Linked DNA regions of Homo sapiens. The protein of the gene in region 1 binds, or shares a complex with, the protein of each later gene. Each region holds a gene or a part of one and is shown on either strand. Other genes may lie near its edges.

What was found.
Region 2: the proteins of CCKBR (region 1) and GAST are in contact, whole or in part, in a cryo-EM structure (PDB 7XOW), measured with the Homo sapiens proteins. Residues at the interface, in NP_795344.1 of Homo sapiens: Cys107, Pro114, Asn115, Gly118, Thr119, Phe120, Met134, Gly135, Val138, Tyr189, Gln204, Cys205, His207, Leu222, Val349, Tyr350, Ala352, Asn353, Arg356, Pro361, Ala363, His364, Leu367, Ser368, Ile372, His376, Tyr380; in NP_000796.1 of Homo sapiens: Glu85, Ala86, Tyr87, Gly88, Trp89, Met90, Asp91, Phe92.

Annotation. Positions count from the first base shown.
Region 1 is NC_000011.10:6,261,864-6,272,070, reverse strand, and holds part of CCKBR (gastrin/cholecystokinin type B receptor), read right to left. Parts: intron 2,403-10,207; coding exon 2,151-2,402; intron 1,984-2,150; coding exon 1,734-1,983; intron 1,426-1,733; coding exon 1,268-1,425; coding exon of another isoform or gene 1,061-1,267; coding exon 528-1,060; 3' UTR 1-527. UniProt on the Homo sapiens protein: Receptor for gastrin and cholecystokinin. The CCK-B receptors occur throughout the central nervous system where they modulate anxiety, analgesia, arousal, and neuroleptic activity.
Region 2 is NC_000017.11:41,704,951-41,715,469, reverse strand, and holds the start of GAST (gastrin preproprotein), read right to left. Parts: upstream 3,140-10,519; 5' UTR 3,083-3,139; intron 39-3,082; 5' UTR 34-38; coding exon 1-33. UniProt on the Homo sapiens protein: Gastrin stimulates the stomach mucosa to produce and secrete hydrochloric acid and the pancreas to secrete its digestive enzymes. It also stimulates smooth muscle contraction and increases blood circulation and water secretion in the stomach and intestine.

The DNA.
Region 1 (10,207 bases):
GGGCAGGGCCACGGTCCTTAACTGGAAAGGGATGAAGAACCTTTTCAGTGCAGAACAGCCTGTTGGTCAGAGGTATGAGATTAGGCCTGATGGTATTTTCAGTGCTGATTGGGAAGGGTCACTGTGAGGTCAAACTAGGAGCATCCCAGAATCAGTCCTGTGCCAGGCTCCATAGTCTCTAAAACAATCAGTGCCATTAATCTATGTGTGTGAGAGGCAGGTCAGCCCTTGTCAGAGTTCCCACTGTGTAGAAATAGTTCACTGCTAGGGACGCTGTGTCTCTCCAAGGTCAGTGTCATGTTTCTATGGGCCAGGCTCAGTCCCATATCAGAGGCATGCCTCCTTTCCCATGTACTGCTCCATTCTTATTCCTCTTGTGTCAGGTAAGCTACCTTTTCCTGTGCGTTGGGGTTAGTCCATGCTTTGGGTGTTGGTTTCCTGTGTCAGTTGTGGTTTGTGTTTCGTATGTCTGGAAGGGTCAGTGCATGTCATTTGCCCTGCCTCAACCCCCACGGCCCCTCTACTCCTCAGCCAGGGCCCAGTGTGCTGATGGTGGTGTAGCTAAGCCTGGACAGCGAAGCAATGGAGGGAGTGGGAGGGTCCTCATCGGGAAGAGCCCTGGGGCGAGCTCGTGGAGGCCGGGGGCAGCAGCGAGCGCAAGTTTCCAGGCAGGCCTGGCGAAAGCGACGGTGCATGAAGCAGTAGACCAGGGGGTTGACACAGGCCGAGGCGTAGCTCAGCAAGTGAATGAAGGAGATAGGAGCACCCGAGAGTGCTCGGTGTGCACCCGGGCCATCAAAGGCGCGCCACGTGTTGGCACTATAAACTGGCAACCAACACAGAAAAAAAAGCACAACGATCACCAGCAACATTCGCACCACGCGCTTCTTAGCCAGCAGCTTGGCCTGGGTGGGCCGGGAGCCGGATCCCGGCCCAGGAGCCGTCAGCGCCGTCAGCTCCAGGGCAGGCCGGGAACGTGGAAGTTGCACGTAGCAGCCATCGCTGTCTTCGCCAACCGCGCCAGTCTCAGGCCGGCAACGCCCGTTCTGGTGAACAGCCCCTGAGCACAAAGGGTGGGCGGTCAGAGAAAAAGGCGAGTCCCCCCAGTCTCCAGCCCAGTCCCCACCTGACCTCCGCTCCCAGCTCAACTCCATTTCCAGCTTCCTTCTCACCCTCACCTTCATTTCAGTCCCACCCACTCCAGCAGGCCCCGTCGCCCTCCAAAGCTCCGCCTCGCCCAGATTTTGCTCACGTGGTCCAGCCCCACCTGGCAGCCCGCCTTGGTTTCGGACCCTGCTTTGGCTGTCGCTGTCACTGTCGCCGTCAAAGCGAAGCCCTAAGTAGAGCTCGCGAGAGATAAGCCCGTAGGCCACGGCCATAACCACACCCGGGATGAAGAACAAGAGCAGAAGCAGCAGTACGGACCTGAAGGCAACACAGACAGATCACTCGGGTTTCTGTCCAGCTGTAATCACAGATGGAGAAAAAGCCAAGGACTAGTGTTTCTAGGGCTGTGGCCAGGTACCTGAAGTAGGAGTAGGATTTGGGGGTGCCGCTGGGAAGGGAGAGAGAACTGGGGAGGGGCCCCAAACTGGAACTCCAGGGTGGTGGATGCAGAATAGGAGTTGGCGTGGTAATTCTCCGGGAAGCTGGAGGAAGATTCTGGGCAATGGTCGTAAGCATCTAATAGGGGTGAGAAAGGAATTCCTAGGATAGTTTATGGGCAAGCTCACCAGGTCTGGCGGACCCGCGCACTGGGCCAGCGATGCACGCACTGCAGCACACGAGGCCCCACTGGTTGCACGACAGTGTACACGGGGTAGGGCACCATGAGTAGTCCGGACAGCAGCCACGTGGCTACAATCACGCGAGCCGCGTGGGAGCGCGTCTGCCACACTCGTGCCTGCAGTGGTCGGCAGATGGCGCTGTACCGCTCCAGTGCGATGGCCACGAGGCTTAGCGTGGACACACTCACAGACACCCCTAAACAAGGGAAGAGAAAGGAAGGAGTCACCTAGGAAACTTGCACTACACAAGCATCAGTGGGACTTCCTCACACCCCTCCCTGCCAACCGGGGAAGACCCCTACATCCACAAGAGCTTTAGGCGGGGAGAGTGGCAAGTGGGGGTGGGGTGGTTGTCTCACCCACCCATGAGGTAGGAAACCGCCTTGCAGATGACGGTGCCAAAGATGAATGTGCCCATGAGATTGGGCAGGAGGGTGAAGGGCATGCAAGCCACAGCCAGCAGGAGGTCGCTGACTGCCAGTGAGAGGAGGAAGGCATTGGTGACAGTCCTCAGGCGGCGGCTCAGTCCCAGGACCACGATGATGAGCATATTTCCTCCAACGCTCATCAGGAAGATCACTGCGTAAAGAGTGATTCTAATGGCCAGCTCCAATTCTGGGTAAGAAAAGGGAGAGGTGGCAGTAGGGGGTCAGCCTTCATTCAGTCAAATCCCCCTCCTTCCGTCTTATCCCCAACCCTCACTACCCAGCCAGATGCCTACATTCCCCACCGATGAACTGCTCAGTAAATGGTGAACTTGAATCCTTTAGCCTTCTAACCCCTTGAGGTTTGGTTAAATTGGCCCAACTCTGCCCTTCCTTAAGAAAGCCTGTCTCTTCTCAAGGTTCGTTCCAAATCTTTCCTTCTTTCTGCAGACAAACTTCTTAAGAGGATATTTGTGTCTTCTCATTTACTCTTCATTCCATTACAATACAATATTCTGTGCCCTATCAGTGCATACTTCTTCCCAAGTACACTAATCTTTAACTGCTAAATTCAAAGGTCCTTTCTTAGCCTACTCTATTTGACCCCGCTAGAGTATTCTACACTGTTGACAACCCACTACCTTTTGAATCACATCAGATCATGTCTTTATTCTCTAAAAACAAAAGCAAAAAAAAAAAAAAAAAAAATACTTCACTTACTCTCTACTGTCTGCAACCCCTCAGAATATCATCAAGATCCTCCCAGAAGGGACTTCTTTCTCTCCCACCCCCTCCCTGTACAGCAGGCATTTAAGCAAGCCACTGGATGACTCAATTTCTTGAATGCATCATTTGCACTTGTGACTCTCTCCCTGCTCAAGCTGGTTTCTCAGACCGGAATACTCTTTTACCAACCCTCCTCACAACTTCTACCCCTCATCACAAGCTTATTTTCTGTATCTGGTGAATTCCTATTCATCCCTTGTTGGTCAAGACTCAAATTGACTGCTACTTCTTCTGTAAGGCCCTTCTGTAAGGCCCTTCTACTCTCCTCTTTCTCTGACCCATGCCTGTTTCTTACACAACTATTACAGCCTATTTTACTTCTGCCTTGTATTTTAATTCTCTCCAAACATTCATTCTCACTCTATAAACATTTACAGAGGACTCCCTTTGTGCTAGGCACTGGGGACAAAGAGATGAACATGACAAGATCCCTGCCATTTGAGAGCTCACAGTGGGGAAGTAAACTCAGATACATAAACAGATGTGATAAGGAGTGAGGCTGAAGGATGTATAAGGTGCTGTTGGAGCTCATAGGAGGGACACCTGTGTGAGGCAGAGGGGCTGGGAGGCTGACCCCATTCTTTTGTGTCATTGTCTATTAAAAGATGGATTAATCTTTGGACCACCACATCACAGCCAAGCAGATTTAGATAAAATCGAATTGGATTGAACAGGACTGAATTACTCACACCTATGGCCTCAGCATGAGAGGGATTAGAGCTGGAAGGTAGAGAGGGCAGGGGACAGAGCCTCCTAGATTGCAGAGAAGGAAAGCCTCAAAGCTGCAGCCCCCTCTTCCAGAGCCCCATACTTTGACTGATTCTCATTTTAGCTCCCAAATTGAAAACTACAGCCATGCACTGAATAACGATGTTTTGGTAAATGACCAATTTCATATACGATGGTGGTCTCATAAGATTGTAATGAACAGCTGAGTGCAGTGGCTTATCTTTGTAATCCCAGCACTTTGAGAGGCCAAGGCGGGAGGATCACCTGAGGCCAGGAGCTTGAGATCAGCCTGAGCAACATAGCAAAGTCCCGTCTCTACAAAACATAAAAAATTAGCTGGGTGTGGTGATACGTGCCTATAGTCATAGCTACTCAGGAGTTTGAGGCAGAAAGATTGCTTGAACCCAGGAGTTCAAGGCTGCAATGAGCTATGATAGTGCCACTGCACTCCAGCCTGCACAACAGAGTGAGACTCTGTCTCAAACAAAACCCAAAATAACAACAACAAAAGATTATAATGGAGCTGAAAAGTTTCTATCACCTAGTAATGTTATTGTAACATTGCAGCATAATGCATTACGTATGTGTTTGTGGGGATACTGGTATAAACAAACCTACTGTGCTGTCAGTCATATAAAAGCCTAGCACATACAATGATGTACATAATACTTGATAGTGATAATAAATGACTGTGTGACTGGTTGATGTATTTACTACATTATACTTTCAATCATTATTTTAGAGTATACTCTTACTTATTTTTTTAAAAAAGTTAACTATAAAACAGACTCAGGCAGGTCCTTTAAGATGTATTCCAGAATAAAGCACCGTTATTATAGGAGATGACAGCTCCATGTGTGGTGTTGCCCTGATGACCTTCCAGTGGGACAAGATGTAGAGGTGGAAGATGGCAATATTTATCCTGACCCTGTGTAGCCCAATGTGTGTGTTTGTGTCTTGGTTTTAACAGAAAGGTTTTTTTTTTTTCTAAAGTTAAAAACAGAAAAATGCTTATAGGATAAGAGTATAAAAAAAGAAAATATTTTTGTATAGCCATACAATGTGTTTTTTGTTTTACACTGTGTTATTACAAAAGAGTCAAAAAGTTTATAAAGTAAAAAGTTACAGTATGCTAAGTTTAATTTATTATTAAATACATTTAGTGTAGCCTAAGTATCCAGTGTTTATAAAGTCTACAGTAGTGTACAGTAATGTCCTAGGCCTTTACTTTCACTCACCACTCATCACTGACTTAGCCAGAGCAACATCTACTCCTGCAAGTTCCATTAACGGTACGTGCCCTATACAGGTGTATGATGGTTTATCTTTTATGCTGTATTTTCACTGTACCTTTTCTATGTTTAGATACACAAATACATAACATTGTGTTACTCTTCCCTACAATATTCAGCACAGTAATATACTGTACAGGTTTGCAGCCTGGGAGCAGTAGGCTATACCGTATAGCCTAGGTATGTAGTAGGCTATACCTTCTAGGTTTGTGTGACAAACACTCTATGATGTTTACACAATGAAATCACCTAATGATGCATTTCTCAGAAGGTATCCCCATCATTAGTTAATGCATGACTGTATTTTCTCATAACAAAAACCAATTTATTTAGAAATTGTAGGCATCAAATAAATGCTATTTATAAAAACTTCCAAACCGAACTCAGCAGTAACATTCTTTGCTCAAGACCACACACCTGATAAGGGGCTGAATCAGAATAGAAGCCAAGTCCCTGATCCCTAATGTGCTTTGCCTCCTACTGTTTGTTCCTGCAGTACTCTGTTATTCATCATACTACCTCCATGTTTTTTGTTTGTTTGTTTGTTTTTGTTTTTGTTTTTGAGATGGAGTTTTGCTCTTGTTGCCCAGGCTGGAGTGCAATGGCATGATCTTGGCTCACCGCAACCTTTGCCTCCTGGGTTCAAGCGATTCTCCTGCCTCAGCCTCCTGAGTAGCTAGAATTACAGGCATGCACCACCACGCCCGGCTAATTTTGTATTTTTAGTAGAGATGGGTTTCTCCATATTGGTAAGGCTGGTCTCGAACTCCCGACCTCAGGTGATCACCTGCTTTGGCCTCCCAAAGTGCTGGGATTACAGGTTTGAGCCACTACGCCTGGCCCATACTGCCTCCTTCTTAATCAAATCTCAATCTAAATGCCTCTTTCTCCCTCTCTCTATACTCAACCATGGCATTTTTCACTGTATTAGTATGTATGTAATTCTCTGTCTTCCCCACTAGACTAGGAGCTTCTTGAGGACAGTGGCAAGGTCCATCTCGCTCTCCAGTATATCCCTAGCACTCATCATCCCTAGCACAGGGGAGGCAGTCAACACATGCTTGTTAATGAATCTTGGATGATTCTGTCTTTCAAGACAGAAGTGCACCTGCTTTCCCCCTCCTCATCCATCCGTCATCTCTGCAGAGGTGCTCCAGCATGCCCTTTCTTCTTCTTCTTTGCCTCTGTCTTTTTGGAGACACATGTTGGAAGGTCCTTGTGGGGGTCAGTGAGAGGTTATGATTTCAGATGCATAACTTTTGTTTTTTATATGCAAACCATCTATATTTCCTTTAGAAGCTGGGCCTCTCTCTGTAAGGAAGGATTACAGAAGGCTTATAGGTGACAAAATTTGAGGGGAGTAAGTGTGTATGGTGGAGAATAAAGGACTTTTAGGAGGGAGACCTCTGTCAGAGAGGTCCTTGGACTCAGAAAAGAGCTGGTGGTTTATCTTGGACTCACTGTTTCTTCTCCAAATCCATTGTCCTCCCACCCCCAGCCTCCACCTCTTTAATCTTTCTAGTTCCATTATCTTGCTTACATCTGCCCTGGATGTCTTTCTTCAACTAATTATTGATGCAATTCGCCACACCTCAAATTGGTACAGTACTGTGAAGCATGAAAAGCAATTTCTCATTCATTCATCCAGCTGATGTCCCATGTGTGTGCCCTTGAACTTGGCTAATTGTGATAGACCATAAAGATGGAGCTAAATATTACCCTTATAAAGTTTGCAATATGCTTGGGGACTCCTGAAATTTATAAGACAAAGTCCCAGTAAAAATGACCAGCAACTGTGCAGTGTTCTGCTGTTTTACTGGACATTCCTAGCTATTATCTTATTTCCAGCCACCACTGTCTCCACACGTCTTTGCTGTTGAACAGTTCAGAAATGTGAAAAATTCTAATTAAAAGCAATTTTAGAGCCAGGAGTTTGGAGAGGCAGAGCGAGGGATAAATAGATGAAGTACAGGGGATTTTTAGGGCAGTGAAACTATTCTGTGTGATACTGTAATGATGGATACATGCCATTATACATTTGTCAAAACCTATAGAACCATACAACACAAAAAGTGAACCCTAATGTAAACTCTAGAATTTAGAGAATAATGTATTGATATTGGCTCATAAATTGTGACACATGTACCACACTAATGTAAGCTGTTAATAATAGGGTAAATTCTGTGTATATGTGTGGTTGTGTGTGTATGGGCACTCTGTAATTTTTGTAAACTTAAAACTGCTCTAAAAATAATCCATTAGTTTAAAAAGTCATGCACAAAATAAATCAGACTTAGACTTGTATGCGTGTGTGTGTGTGTGTGTGTATTGATGTGTGTTTGCATGGTGGAATATGAGTGATGACAGTGGCTTCAGTGACTAGGAAACAGGCATGGGTAGAAGGATGGGAGATAGCACCTGCTGGGGTACATCCACAAGTGCCTTGATAAGTCTACCCGTGAGCATCATCTCATCATCTTCCTGGGGATGAGGAAAACTGGCATCAGACCAGGCGACTCAGAAGATTGGGACAGTTCAGTTCTTCTCCTGGTGTTTAGAAGATCTGTATTTGTTCTGTCTAGATAATGGCAGAGAAGTATGAGTGCAAAAATCCAGACAACGTGACATAAAATGAAAACCAAGACTTTCTAAGGAAAAACTCCACAGAACACTGAAGCTGCTGATGCCTTAAATTCTGCATTCTACTGGCAGGTTTGATCTGTTCACCCATGCACACAGACATCAAAGTAATACCCTTGTCTCTATGATAAGCAGGGATCACATCCAACTGACTGTGGGTAGTGGCTGGGTGAATGGGGGAATCCACATAGTGGGTACTGAGGGAGCAGAAGTAATATGCAAGGGTGTGTAGGTAATATCAGAGTGAGTGTTGGGCATACTTTAATCTTTGAAATAGTATATGGGTAGGTGAAAGTCACGCTTATTTCTGTGGGACATATCTGGAGAATGGTAACATCTACATGCTTATAGGTAATATCCGATTGAATATGGCTTACATTTAAGTTTAGATAATATCTGAGTCACTGTAGTAACATTTGAAAGAGCAAGGGTTAATATCCAACTCTCTGTAGATAACATTTTGTAGGTAACATCTTCAGGAAGCATAGATTACATTCAGAGGTCTACTTGTGAGTAGTGGAATATCCAAATAATGATAGAAATTGCTGACTGAGCAGAAGTAATATCCAAGTATGTATGGGTAGTATTTGAGTACAGATGTTAGATGTTAACATGTTAACTAAATTAAGATGTTAATCTGGGCCAGACATGGTGGCTTATATCTGTAATCCCAGCACTTTGGAAGGCTGAGGTGGGCAGATCTCTTAAGCCAAGGATTTAGAGACCAGCCTGGGCAACATGGAAAAACCCTATCTCTACAAAAAATACAAAAAATTAGCCACTTGTGGTGGCACATGCCTGTAGTCCCAGCTATTTAGGGGGTTGAGGTGGGAGGATCACTTGAGCCTGCGGAGGTCAAGACTGCAATGAGCCATGATCATGCTACTGCACCCCAGCCTGGGCAACAGAGGGAGACTGCCTCAAAAAAAAAAAAAAAAAAAAGATGTTAATCTGAGTAAATGAAATAACTGAGCACCTGAGTGAATGTAAGTAATATTTAAGCTTTTGTGGGTATTATCTGAGTATGTGAGAGTAATATTTGTAATTTTATGGGTAGTATCTGGGAAAAGCTTACTTAAGTGAGCATAGGTAATATCTGGTTGTGTGTGGATAATAATAAAATGAAAGTGAGTAGTGTTTGATGGATGGGTAACACCAAAATGACTTCGGACAATATTAAAGTGAGTGTGGTAACATTTGTCTTTCTGTGGGTACTATCTGAGTGAACATGGGTAATACTCAAGTCTGCATGGATTATATAAGGAGAATAAAGTGGTAACATCCAAATTCCTATTGGTAACATTGGAGTGAACCTGGGTAACCTATGCATCTGCAGGGATAATATCTGAATGAGTGTGGCTGACAGGGTCTCTGTGTGTAACATCTGACTGGCTGGGTAACATCCAAATGTGTGAGGAGCATTTAGATAAGTGAGGCAAATTTTTGCACCTGTGCTCTGAATTGCGTCACATCCCGCTTTCACAGGGAATCTTCTCTATTGACTATCCCCTTTCTTATCTGCACCTTCAATCTTCCTCTCTCGGCCCAATCACCAACAAACATTTTAAAAAGCTCTTGTTTTAAAATGCGTGCACACACACGCGCACACACGTAACAAACCTATGCACATACCCACTCCCCCCTTCCTCAATCTCATGCTATTTTTGGCAATATCCTGCTTTTCTTTCTCTCTCTCTCTCTCTCTCTCTCTCTCTCTCTCTCTCTTTCTTTGCCTACCAGACTTCTTGAAAGTTTTGGCTACATACCTTGGTTCACTTCTCATAACTCCTTCTCTCACCAGTCCAATCTTTAACCTACCATAGTCAAGCCTCAATACCTACAACTCCTAAATATTTTCTTGTTATTGAATGTGAAGGATGCTGTTCTGACTGTCCTGTTTTTTATTTATGTAACTTATGTCAATAGCATTTGATATCACTTACCCCAACCTGCTTGAAACTCTCTTTTTCTTGCTTTCTGGAAGGGCGTAGCTCCTGCCTTTCTGATGGTTTCATCTGAATCTCCTTCATAAATTCTCCTTTCTCTGCCTGGCTTTTAAATAATGGTCTTATGCAGAGTCTTGACCTAGGACCTATTTTCTTCTCATTCTATACAAAATTTTATGATTTTAACTATTCTCGGGGCTTCTACATCCTGTAGGCAAAGACCTTCTTCAAGTCTGTATTTCCACCTCAGACCTCTCCTGTAAGTTCCAGACCCCTGGATTCAACAGCTTACTAGGTAACCTCACCTGGATGCCCCACTAACATTTAAACTCAATGGGTTCCAAACTGAATTTATAATTCCCTCTTCCAAACCTGTTTCTGCTGTTTTGTTATCTTTCTCATTGTATACAATTGCTATAGCACCAATATCCATTCAGTTGTCCAAGTTAGAAATCTGAATGTCATCCCTTGACCTCTTCCATCCTCTCTGCTTCTAATCTGTTGATTCCATTTCCAGAAGAGGCTCTCAAATCTATCCACCTCTCTCCATCTCCCTTGCCATTACCTTAGTCTCAGCTAGCATCATCTTTCACCCAGAACAG
Region 2 (10,519 bases), on another chromosome or scaffold:
AAAGATCAGCACATACACACACAGTCGCTGCATCTCGTCTGCAAAGGGGAGAAGGGACTAGCTTAAGGGTGAGGCTGTCCCCACAGAGGCCCAGAGGCAGGGGACTGAACCATGTGGCTCCAGGCCTCTACCTGCTGATGAGTGTGCAATTCTTTCTTTTTTTTTTTTTTAGACAGAGTTTCACTCTTGTTGCCCAGGCTGGAGTGCAGTGGTGGGATCTCGGCTCACTATAACCTCCGCCTCCCGGGTTCAAGTGATTCTCCTGCCTCAGCCTCCAGAATATCTGTGACTATAGGCACGTGCCACCATGCCTGGCTAATTTTTGTAATTTTTAGTAGAGATGGGGTTTCACCATGTTGGCCAGGCTGGTCTCGAACTCCTGACCTCAGGTGATCCACCCGCCTCGGCCTCCCAAATGCTGGGATTACAGGCATGAGCCACCGCACCCGGGTGAGTCTGCAATTCTGTGTGGAGTTGTGGACTATTTCTTCAGATCAGTTCTCCAGTTTCTGCCAGTTCCACACCAGCCCCGAAGTCTTGTGTTTTTTCTCTTTACCTACCCCGATTACAGCCACTGCTTCTATTGGAGAAAGTCAAATCCTAGGGCAATGGTTTCCCTAGGTTCTGTTCTGCAGAATTTGAGGCCATGTTAGTGGTTCTGTAGCTGTTTAAGTAATGTAATTTATTTATTTATTGAGACAGGGTCTCACTCTGTCGCCCAGGCTGCAGTGCAGTAGTGCAATCACTGCTCACTGCAGCCTCTACCTCCTGGGCTCAGGTGATCCTCCCACCTCAGCCTCCAGAAGAGCTGGGACTACAGGCTTGCACCACCACGTCCAGCTAATTTTTTTTGTATTTTTTGTAGAAACAGGGTTTCACCATGTTGCCCAAGCTAGTCTTGAACTCTTGGGCTCAAGCAATCCTCCCGCCTCAGCCTCCCAAAGTGCTGCGATTACAGATGTGAGCCACTGTGCTCAGCCCAAGACTTGTTATTTAAAGTGAACTTTTTAGGCCAGGCATGGTAATCCCAGCACTTTGGGAGGCTGAGGAGGATGGATCCCTTGAGCCCACAAGTTTGAGACCAGCCTGGGCAACATACTGAAACCCCATCTCTACAAAAAATACAAAAATTAGCCAGGCATGGTGGCATGCACCTGTATTCCCAGCTACTTGGGAGGCCGAGGTGGGAGGATCGCTTGAACCGGGGAGGTGGAGGTTGCAGTGAGCCGAGATTGCACCACTGCTCTCCAGCCTGGGCGACAGAGTGAGACCCTGTCTCAAAAAAACAAAAACAAAAAGTGAAACTTTTAAATAGTAATACCAAAGGAACATGGACATCCAGCTGTGTTACAGACCGCATGTTATCACTTTGGAGACTGCAGCACATTCAATGCTTGGCCAGCTCACACTGATTTTTGTGCAGCCCTGAGAGGAAAGGTTCTCCTGTCATTTTTGCTTAACTGAGGAATATCCTGTGATTATAATGAAGCAGTTAAGAAAAAATTAAGCTGTCACCATTAGCAATTATGTATCAGGGTGAATCAAGTTTGGGGAAAACATAATACAGAACTAAACTGGAATCTCAAACAAACATAAAATTCAAATGCTCATCTATTCCCTGGACTCACTATTTTTGTATGCTTTTGGTCTCACTATTCTGATTGGCTTTATCATAAGAAAATGATAAAAATTTTCTCTTGTCAGAATACATTTGTATTAATAAAATACTGTACTGCTTTTAAGTTTTTCTTTTTTTCTTTTCTTTTTGTGAGACAGAATCTTGCTCTGTCTCCCAGGCTGGAATGCAGTGGCTGGCGTGATCCTGACTCGCTGCAGCCTCGACCTCTTGGGCTCAAGAGATCCTCCCACCTCAGCCTCCTGAGTAGTTGGGACTACAAGTGTGCACTACTATGCCCAGCTAATTTTTTTGTTTTTATTTTTAGTAGAGATGAGGTCTCACTATGTTGCCCAGGCTGGTCTGGAACTCCTGAGCTCAAGCAATCTGCTTGCTTCAGCCTCCCAAAGTGTTGTGATCACAGGCATGAGCCACGGTGCCTGGCCATTAAGTTTTTCATAATCAGGTTTTCTGTTAGGTTTTCTTTGGAAGAAAAGAATTCTGCTGCTGAAGAAATGTTTGAAAAATCAGTGATCTGGAGCTGTATTGTCAGATGCTAACCACATGTGTTGTTCAGTGCTATAGCCACCAGCCACATGTGGCTCTTTACATTTAAATTAATTAAATTAAAAAATTATGGTCAGGTGCAGTGGCTCACGCCTGTAATCCCAGCACTTTGGGAGGCTGAGGGGGTTGGATCACTTGAGGTCAGGAGTTTGTGACCAGCCTGGCCAACATGGTGAAACTCTGTCTCTACCAAAAATATGAAAAATTAGCTGGGTGTTGTGGCAGGCGCCTGTAATCCCGGCTACTCGGGAGGCTGAGTCAGGAGAATTGCTTGAACCTGGGAGGCAGAGGTTGCATGTCACTGCACTCCAGCCTGGGTGACACGGCGAGACTCTATATAAAAAAACAAACAACAACAACAACAAAAACTTCCTTACACTAACCCCATTTCAAGCGCACACGTGGCTAGTGGCTACCATATTGAACAGTGCAGATGAAGACCATTTCCTGCATCATAGGACGTTCTTTTGGATGGCACTGGTCTAGGAAAGGGCTTGAAGTGGGATCCAGGAGCTGTGGATTCCTATCCCAGCCTTGCCTAATAATCCCTGTGACTTTGGGCAAGTCACATCTTGCCTCTGGGCCTCAGTTTTCTTGTCTGAGAGAAAGGAGAAGAACCCCAGTCCTCCTCACCTCCCAGGGCTGGGAAGAGTGTGAAGGGATAGGCTAAGGGCAGGGCCCCGGCTGCGGCAGAAGGGCAGGTGGAAGGCAAGGTTGGGAATACCAGGGTAGGTACTGGAGCCAAGACCTAGTTCCATCCTGGGATAAAGAAAGGGTCCCAGCTCTGGAGACCCCAAGGGGTGAGCCCCAGACTCTGGCCAGTGGCCTGGTACCTTGATGGGGGAGAGGACCTGTCAACCCACTTCCTAGCCTCTCCCCTCTCCTCCTGGGTTTTCTCACCTGCAGAGCTGGGAGGTGTGTGGTGCCACGGCTGGGCCTGGTGCCTCTCAGGTCTCTGCTCTGCTTGATGCTCCAGGCCTGCCTTATAAAGCCCTCAAGGTCCCTCCCAACTGTCCCCCCACCCCGCCCCTACCCTGCCATATGAGTCCAGGCGAGAGGAATGGGGTGGGGCACAGGTACAGCCCATCACCCTGCCCCGCCCTTTCATTTAGTGTCAGTCAGTCATCCAGGATGTGGGGGAAGGATAGGGGAGTTGACCTTCATGGTGAGGGGCTGGAGCGGGGTGGCGGCAGCTCTCCAGCTGTACCTGAGGGGCAGGAACCAAGCTCCCTGGGTCAGGAGCAATGCTTCCCACCATATCCTGGGGGTCAGAGGCCTGGCACTTATCTCTCGAACTACATAGGGACCTTTGTGGGTGGTGGTAGGTGAGGGAGTGAACCCGATGGGCTTAGATTCAGGGAAAGTGGATTTCGCCATCCACTGATGTTTGGCAAGCGTGTGAATGTGGGGTGATGTATTGATTCCCCGTCCCCTCCACTGGACTCTGCAAACATAACGTGTTACCAGGAGCAATGGGTTGTGGGCTGATGGCCCTGTTCTCTCCTTCTAGTGGCTCACATCCTGGTCACCTCTGAAGTCCTTTCACCCTCCCCCTACCATGGAACACCCTTGGTGCCTTCTTCTCCTTAGGCCCTCTGTGCTGGGCTGGGTTTGGCTTGTAGCTGCCCCGTGTCTTCTAGGTCAGCTGCCCATGCACCACCACTTGCAAACCCCCTATGCAGAACCAATTCCTGGAGGGTCCTGCCTTTGAAGCCTCCTTCATTTTGCTTTCAAGGGGAGCTAGTAATCTGCATAACAACTTTTTTTTTTTTTTGAGACAAAGTCTAGTTCTGTCACCAGGCTGGAGTGCAGGAGTGCAGTGGTGTGATCTCGGCTCACTGGAACCTCCGCCTCCTGGGTTCAAGCGATTCTTCTGCCTCAACCTCCCTAGTAGCTGGGATTACAGGCGCACGCCCCCACGCCTGGCTAATTTTTTGTATTTTTAGTAGAGATGGGGTTTCATCGTGTTGGGCGGGCTGGTCTCGAACTCCTGACCTCATGATCGGCCCAGCTTAGTCTGCCAAAGTTCTGGGATTACAGACGTGAGCCACCATGCCCAGCCAACAACTTTTCAGTATCAAAATATACCTTCAAATGGTTAGCAAACAGACTAAAGCATTTGCCAAAGATGGACCAGAAAACAAAATGGTACCTTGTTGACTTATTTGATAAACTGCTGCCTCCACATGGTTTGACCAGATGTAATGAGCCGTAGGCTGTTTTTTACTTTTCCACTGTTGAGAGCAGAGATTTTGCTCCTGTTCATGCGTCATTGGGCCCCCACCTTTTCTGGGAGAGTTTGATCCCCTTGGGTATTGGGTAACTGCAGTGGTACCCATGCTTACAGCCAGCCTTGCTGAGAATTAATGGGTGATGAAGGAAGCAGGCTGTGCGGTGTCCATGGCAACTGACGGCTGAATAACCGTTGTGAATAACCACTCTCATCTAGAGCAGGACACGGTGACTCAGCAGATGGAATAAATGAAAACGACAAAAAGCAGTGCAGGCATTGGTGATAATTAATTGAATCACAGAATCTCAGAGATGAAAGGACTTTGAGGGGGCTTGGGAGAACAGGTGGGGTGAGTGTAGCTCTGTTCATACACTAGGGGAATGAATGAAGACATTCGTGTTGCTATGGTAACACTAATGGGAAATGATAAGTTTTCAGTAGAACCCTGGTTGTACCAGAGCCCAAGACTCAGTTTGTGCCCATGGAGGGGGTTATGCCCCCTTGAATGTTCTTCCCCAGGCTGGTTACATGAGGGATGACAATTTCAACAAATAGAAGCATGTCTCCTATTCCATAGGCAATGGTTAGAATGTCACTATTTGGCCAGGCTTGGTGGCTCACTCCTGTAATCCCAGCACTTTGGGAGGCTGAGGCAGGTGGATCACGAAGTCAAGAGATCGAGACCATCCTGGCCAACATGGTGAAACCTTGACTCTACTAAAAATACAAAAATTAGCTGGGCATGGTGGCGGGCGCCTGTAATCCCAGCTACTCGGGAGACTGAGGCAGGAGAATCGCTTGAACCTGGGAGGCACAGAGAGGTTGCAGTGAGCTGAGATCATGCCATTGCACTCCAGCCTGGTGACAGAGCGAGACTCTGTCTCAAAAAAAAAAAAAAAAAAAAAAAAAGAATGTCACTATTTGCAGACCCTGCCAGGTCTGCAGGGGAAGGGTTGCATTCAGAGATGAGCATCCTTGACCCTGAGGAGCTCCCCAGTCACGGACTGCACGTTCTCCTCATGAGGGGACCTCGTCTGATGGAAAAGGAAGGGTTTCCTGGTCCTGTCTTTTTCCAGCTGTTGAGCTTTGAGCATATTTCTCTCCTTCTCTGAGCTGTTTTCTCCTCTAGGAAATGAGGAAAGTAACTTGGGGAGGAGGGTCTCGTGAAGGTGATGTACATAAAGCGCCCTGCACGGTGCTCAAAACATTGCAGATATTTGGCCGGGTGCGGTGGCTCATGCCTGTGATCCCAGCACTTTGGGAGGCCAAGGCAAGCAGATCACCTGAGGTCAGGAGTTCGAGACCAGCCTGAACAACATGGTGAAACCCCGTTTCTACTAAAAATACAAAAATTAGCTGGGCGTGGTGGCACATGCCTGTAATCCCAGCTACTTGGGAGGCTGAGGCACGAGAATTGCTTGAACCCAGGAAGTGGAGGTTGGAGTGAGCCAAGATTGTGCCATTGCACTCCAGCCTGGGTGACACAGTGAGACTGTCTCAAACAAACAGACAAACAAAAGAGAATATCGCAGGTATTTAATCCATTTTGCGTCTTCTCCCCCATCCTCTCTGGGTCTCAATTAACCACATTTGGAAATAGGAATCATTCATTTGTACCTCATAGGGCTGCAGTGAAGGGAAGAGGTGACAAGGTCTGTGCACACGCTTTATACACTTGGGGGAGTTCTCCTTCCCCAAGGCTTAAAGGAGGGTAATTCCCTAAGCATATCACTCTGTGAATCCAAGGGTTTCCCTCCTGCCAGCTGTGACTCAGAGGGACCTCAGCCCAACTGCCACTGAAAGAGGCAGCAGGGATAGAGTCTATGGAAGCTGGACCTCCTGGTGTACAGGGGGTTTTGGAACTGGTGAGGCCAGGGTTTGAATCATGGCTCTAACACCGACTAGCTGGGTGAGCAGAAAATTCAATTTCTGGGCCTACCAAATTGAAGACCAGATCCCAGACCTTGGGACCCATCTCCGTCCCCCTCGAGGGTGCAGGTGTGTGGGCCCTGCCCCTGTCATCACAACGATAACAATGCCGTGTACCAGGAACTGATAAGCTCTTAGCATGAATGAATGCAATCACTCTTCACCATGATCCTAGGACCTAAGTGCTAGTGTGAACCCCTTCTTCAGAAGAAACTGATGGGTACGGGGGCTTACGCCTGTAATCCCAGCACCTGGGGAGGCCGAGGCCGGCAGATTACTTGAGCCCAACAGTTGAAGACCAGCCTGGGCAACATGGCAAAACCCCATCTCTACAAAAAATACAAAAATTAGCTGGGTGTGGTGGTGCGTGGCTGTGGTCCCAGCTATTTGGGAGGCTGAGGTGGGAGGATTGCTTGAGCCGGGGAGGTGAGGTTGCAGTGAGCCATGATTGTGCCACTGTACTTGGGAGACAGAGTGAGACGCTGTCTCAAAAAAAAAAAAAAAAAAAAAAAAGAAGTAGAAACTAAGGCTTAGACAGGTGAAGTAATCCCCATCCTGAGTCCACACACCAAAAAGGAGAGGTGGGTCTGAAACTCAGGTCTCTATCCTCCCAGTAGGAATGTGGCAGGCAGAACAATCATGTCCCCAAAGATGTTCCTGCCCCAATCCTTGGAACCTGTGAATATGTGATTACATAACAAAAGAGACGTTGCAGGTGTGATTAAGGTTACTGGCTTTAAAATAGAGAGCTTATGCCAAGTGCAGTGGTGCATGCCTGTAGTCCCAGCTACTCTGGAGGCTGAGGCAGGAGGATCACTTAAGCCCAGGAGTTTGAGACCAGCCTGGGCAACATAGTGAGACCCCTGTCTCTGAAAAAAAAAATTAGGGAGTTTATGCTGGATTATCTGACTGGGCCCAGTGTAATCACATAGCCCTTAACTTTCTTCAGCTAGAGGCAGAAGAGATGTGGCTGAAGGTCAGGTCGGAGAGCTGGAGTTATGAGGACTCCACAAGCAATTGCTGGTCTGAAGATGGCAGGAGGGCAACAGGACGAGGAAAGCAGTGGCCTTGAGGAGCTGAGAGGTTCTCCACCGACAGCCAGGAAAGAGGAATGTCAGCCCCGCAACTACAAAGAATGAAATCTGGCCAACAACCTGGATGAGCTTGGAAGTGGATTCATCCCTAGAGCCTCCAGAAAGAAATGCAGCCCTGCCGACCTGATTGTGGCCTTGGGAGATCCTAATCAGGGGACCCCGTGAGCCACTCTGTACCAGGACTTCTGACCTACAGAACCGCGAGAGAATAAATTGCTGTTGTTTTAAGCTTCTAAATTGTGGTGACTTATTATGGTAGCAATCAAAAATGGATACAAGGGATCACAGCCTTGTGAAGGTTTCTGTTTAGTAAAAACTGGCCCAGCATGAATTTCCATGTAAATTTTCAAATACAAAGAAGGGAGCTGTTCTTTGAGTTATTCTGACCATCCGAATATTCCAAATTCATTCCAATTACTGAGCACCTGCTGTGAGCTAGGGTACAGATGAGGCTACTTGGGGATAAGAGGTGAATATGACAGCGCTGGGTGCAGCGGCTCACGCCTGTAATCCCAGCACTTTGGGAGGCTGAGGTGGGTGGATCACTTAAGTTTGGGAGTTCAAGACCAGCCTGACCAACATGATGAAACTCTGTCTCTACTAAAAAATACAAAATTAGCCGGGCATGGTGGTGCACGTCTGTAATCCTGGCTACTTGGGAGGCTGAGGTGGAAGAATTGCTTGAACATGGGAGGCAGAGGTTGCAATGAGCTGAGATTGTGCGATTGCACGCCAGCCTGGGCAACAAGAGTGAAGCTTTGTCTCAAAAAAAAAAACAGGTGACTATGACAGGACAGACCCTTTCATTGCTTTGGTGGAGTTTAGATTCTAGGGGCATAAAAGAGTAACACACGGCCGGGTGTGGTGGCTCACGCCTGTAATCCTAGCACTTTGGGAGGCCAAGGTGGGCAGATTGCCTGAGCTCAGGAGTTCAAGACCAGCCTGGGCAACATGGTGAAACCCTGTCTCTACTAAAATACAAAAAAAAAAAAAAAGCCGGGCGTGGTGGTGTGTGCCTGTAGTCCCAGCTACTTGGGAGGCTGAGGCAGGAGAATTGCTTGAACCTGGGAGGCAGAGGGTGCAGTGAGCTGGGATCGTGCCACTGCACTCCAGCCTGGCGACAGAGTGAGACTCTGTCTCAAAAAAAAAAAAAAAAAAAAAAAAAAAAAAAAAAAAAAAAGAGTAACAGAAAAACAAGGGTCCCCTGTGAAGGAGACTGTTCCCTGAGGAGGGAGAGGCTTCTCAGTGGACCCAGGCACACTCCTGCCTGCCAGGGCTGGCTTTGGGAAACAGATCACTATTGATGAGCTGCAAACCGTTGTCAGGGAGGCAGTGCCTTGGCTTCCTAATTGGTTATTGATGGCAGAAAAGGAAGAGCTTGATGACGACTCAATCATTCTGGCCCAGGCAACCAGGGCTTTGGAGGATGTGGTAGTTCTGGGGACAAACAGTGACACCTGGAAGGTGTTTGCATCAATGAGGGCATCCATGATCCCCCCTGGGGTAGGGGGCTAGGTAGGGGGAGGTGGGTTCTTGGGTTCTGGCCTCAGCTGCTGTCTGAGAGTGGTGACATGGCAGGGCCAAGAGGGCAGCCTGCAAGCTGCTTGCAGACTGGGCTGGAGAGGCTGCCCACCACCCCTGGGCCCAGGCTGGGCTGTCAAGGACAGAGAGTAGTGGCTACCCTTACTCTGGCTTCCGCTTCTCTCCTGAGCCTCCTCTCTCCTTTTCTCCTCTGATGCCCACCTGTGCCTTCGAAGCAGTGGTTCTCAGCCCAGGCTTTGTATTTGGATCACCTGGCCTCAAGTGATCCTCCCTCCTGGCCTCCCAAAGCCCTGGGATTTATAGGCATGGGCCACCACGCCTGGCCTAACAGTGGTTTTAACTGGGAAAAATAATCCTAAAGGCCCCTCTGTGAGAGGATGAGAGGAGTCTTTATTCGGGTGTGTTCCAGGCTGAATGGCTCATCCCCGGCCCAACAGGTAGGAGGTGAGGGAGCTGAGTTGGGGAACCCCCGGGTCTTGGACTCCATGTGCTGCTGCCTCTTCTCGGCCCACAGCTTCCCATCCCACCCTCTCCAGAAGCCTCGCTCCTGCTGAATCTGTCTTCACTGTGACCTCCAGCTCCTCCACTGTCTGGCTCCTCCCAGCCCGCCTACCCCTCCCAGGGTTTGTCATCTCAGTTCTGTGTGATGCACATAGATTGCTGCCCCTGTCCTGCTTCTGAACCTGCCAGGCTGGTCCCAGGTCCCTGACAGGCCACCCCGACCCCTTCCTCAGCTCCTGCCACTCCCTGCAAAAACCGACAGGAAGTTTCCGAAAGTGACCAGTTGATTCAATTGCAAATTAATATTCTGCAGCTTGGTTGTTACTGGCAACTGTGGTGAATCATTTCTCTTTCATTCCCAAGGTCATTTGACGTCAGCCCCCTTTTCCCCACCGTGAACACAGCTGCCTAAGTCCCGCTTCCGTCCTTTCCTCCTTTCCTCCATCGCTGGAGGTTCTGTCACCCCATTCAGTGTCAGCCCCTCCACCAGGGCCCATCATCCCAGACCCTCCTGCCTGCTTAGAGACCGTGTGCTTTCACTCTTTCATTCACTCATTCATCCATGCATCTGTTTACTCAACACAAATTTTCCAAGTGCCTGCTTTGTGTCAGGCACTGTTCTGACCCTGGGGACACAATGGTGATCGAGGGGGGTCTTTGTTCTTTCTCTTCCCTTTTCTTTGTTGTCTATTGAGCCCAGGAGTGGGGTGGGTTGGAGTGACACATGGTGGGCTCAAGGGGCCATGGGGGAGGTTTGGATGGCTGGTTATGCCTATGACCTCGCTATTGAGAACGTTATTTCAGAGAAGGTAGAAGGATCAGTGCGTTTCTTCAAGCTTTACTGAAGTTTTGCTGCATATATAAACCCACCTGATTCCAAATGATCCCTGGCAGACGGCAGAGGTCATTTCTGTCCACGAGCCAGAGAGATGCTGCCATGTGGCAAGGGCAACACCCCTGCTCATAATGTGCCCACCCAGCCAGCTTTGGAAATGATGCAATTCTTTTTTTTTTTTTTTTTTTTTTTTTAAATAAGCC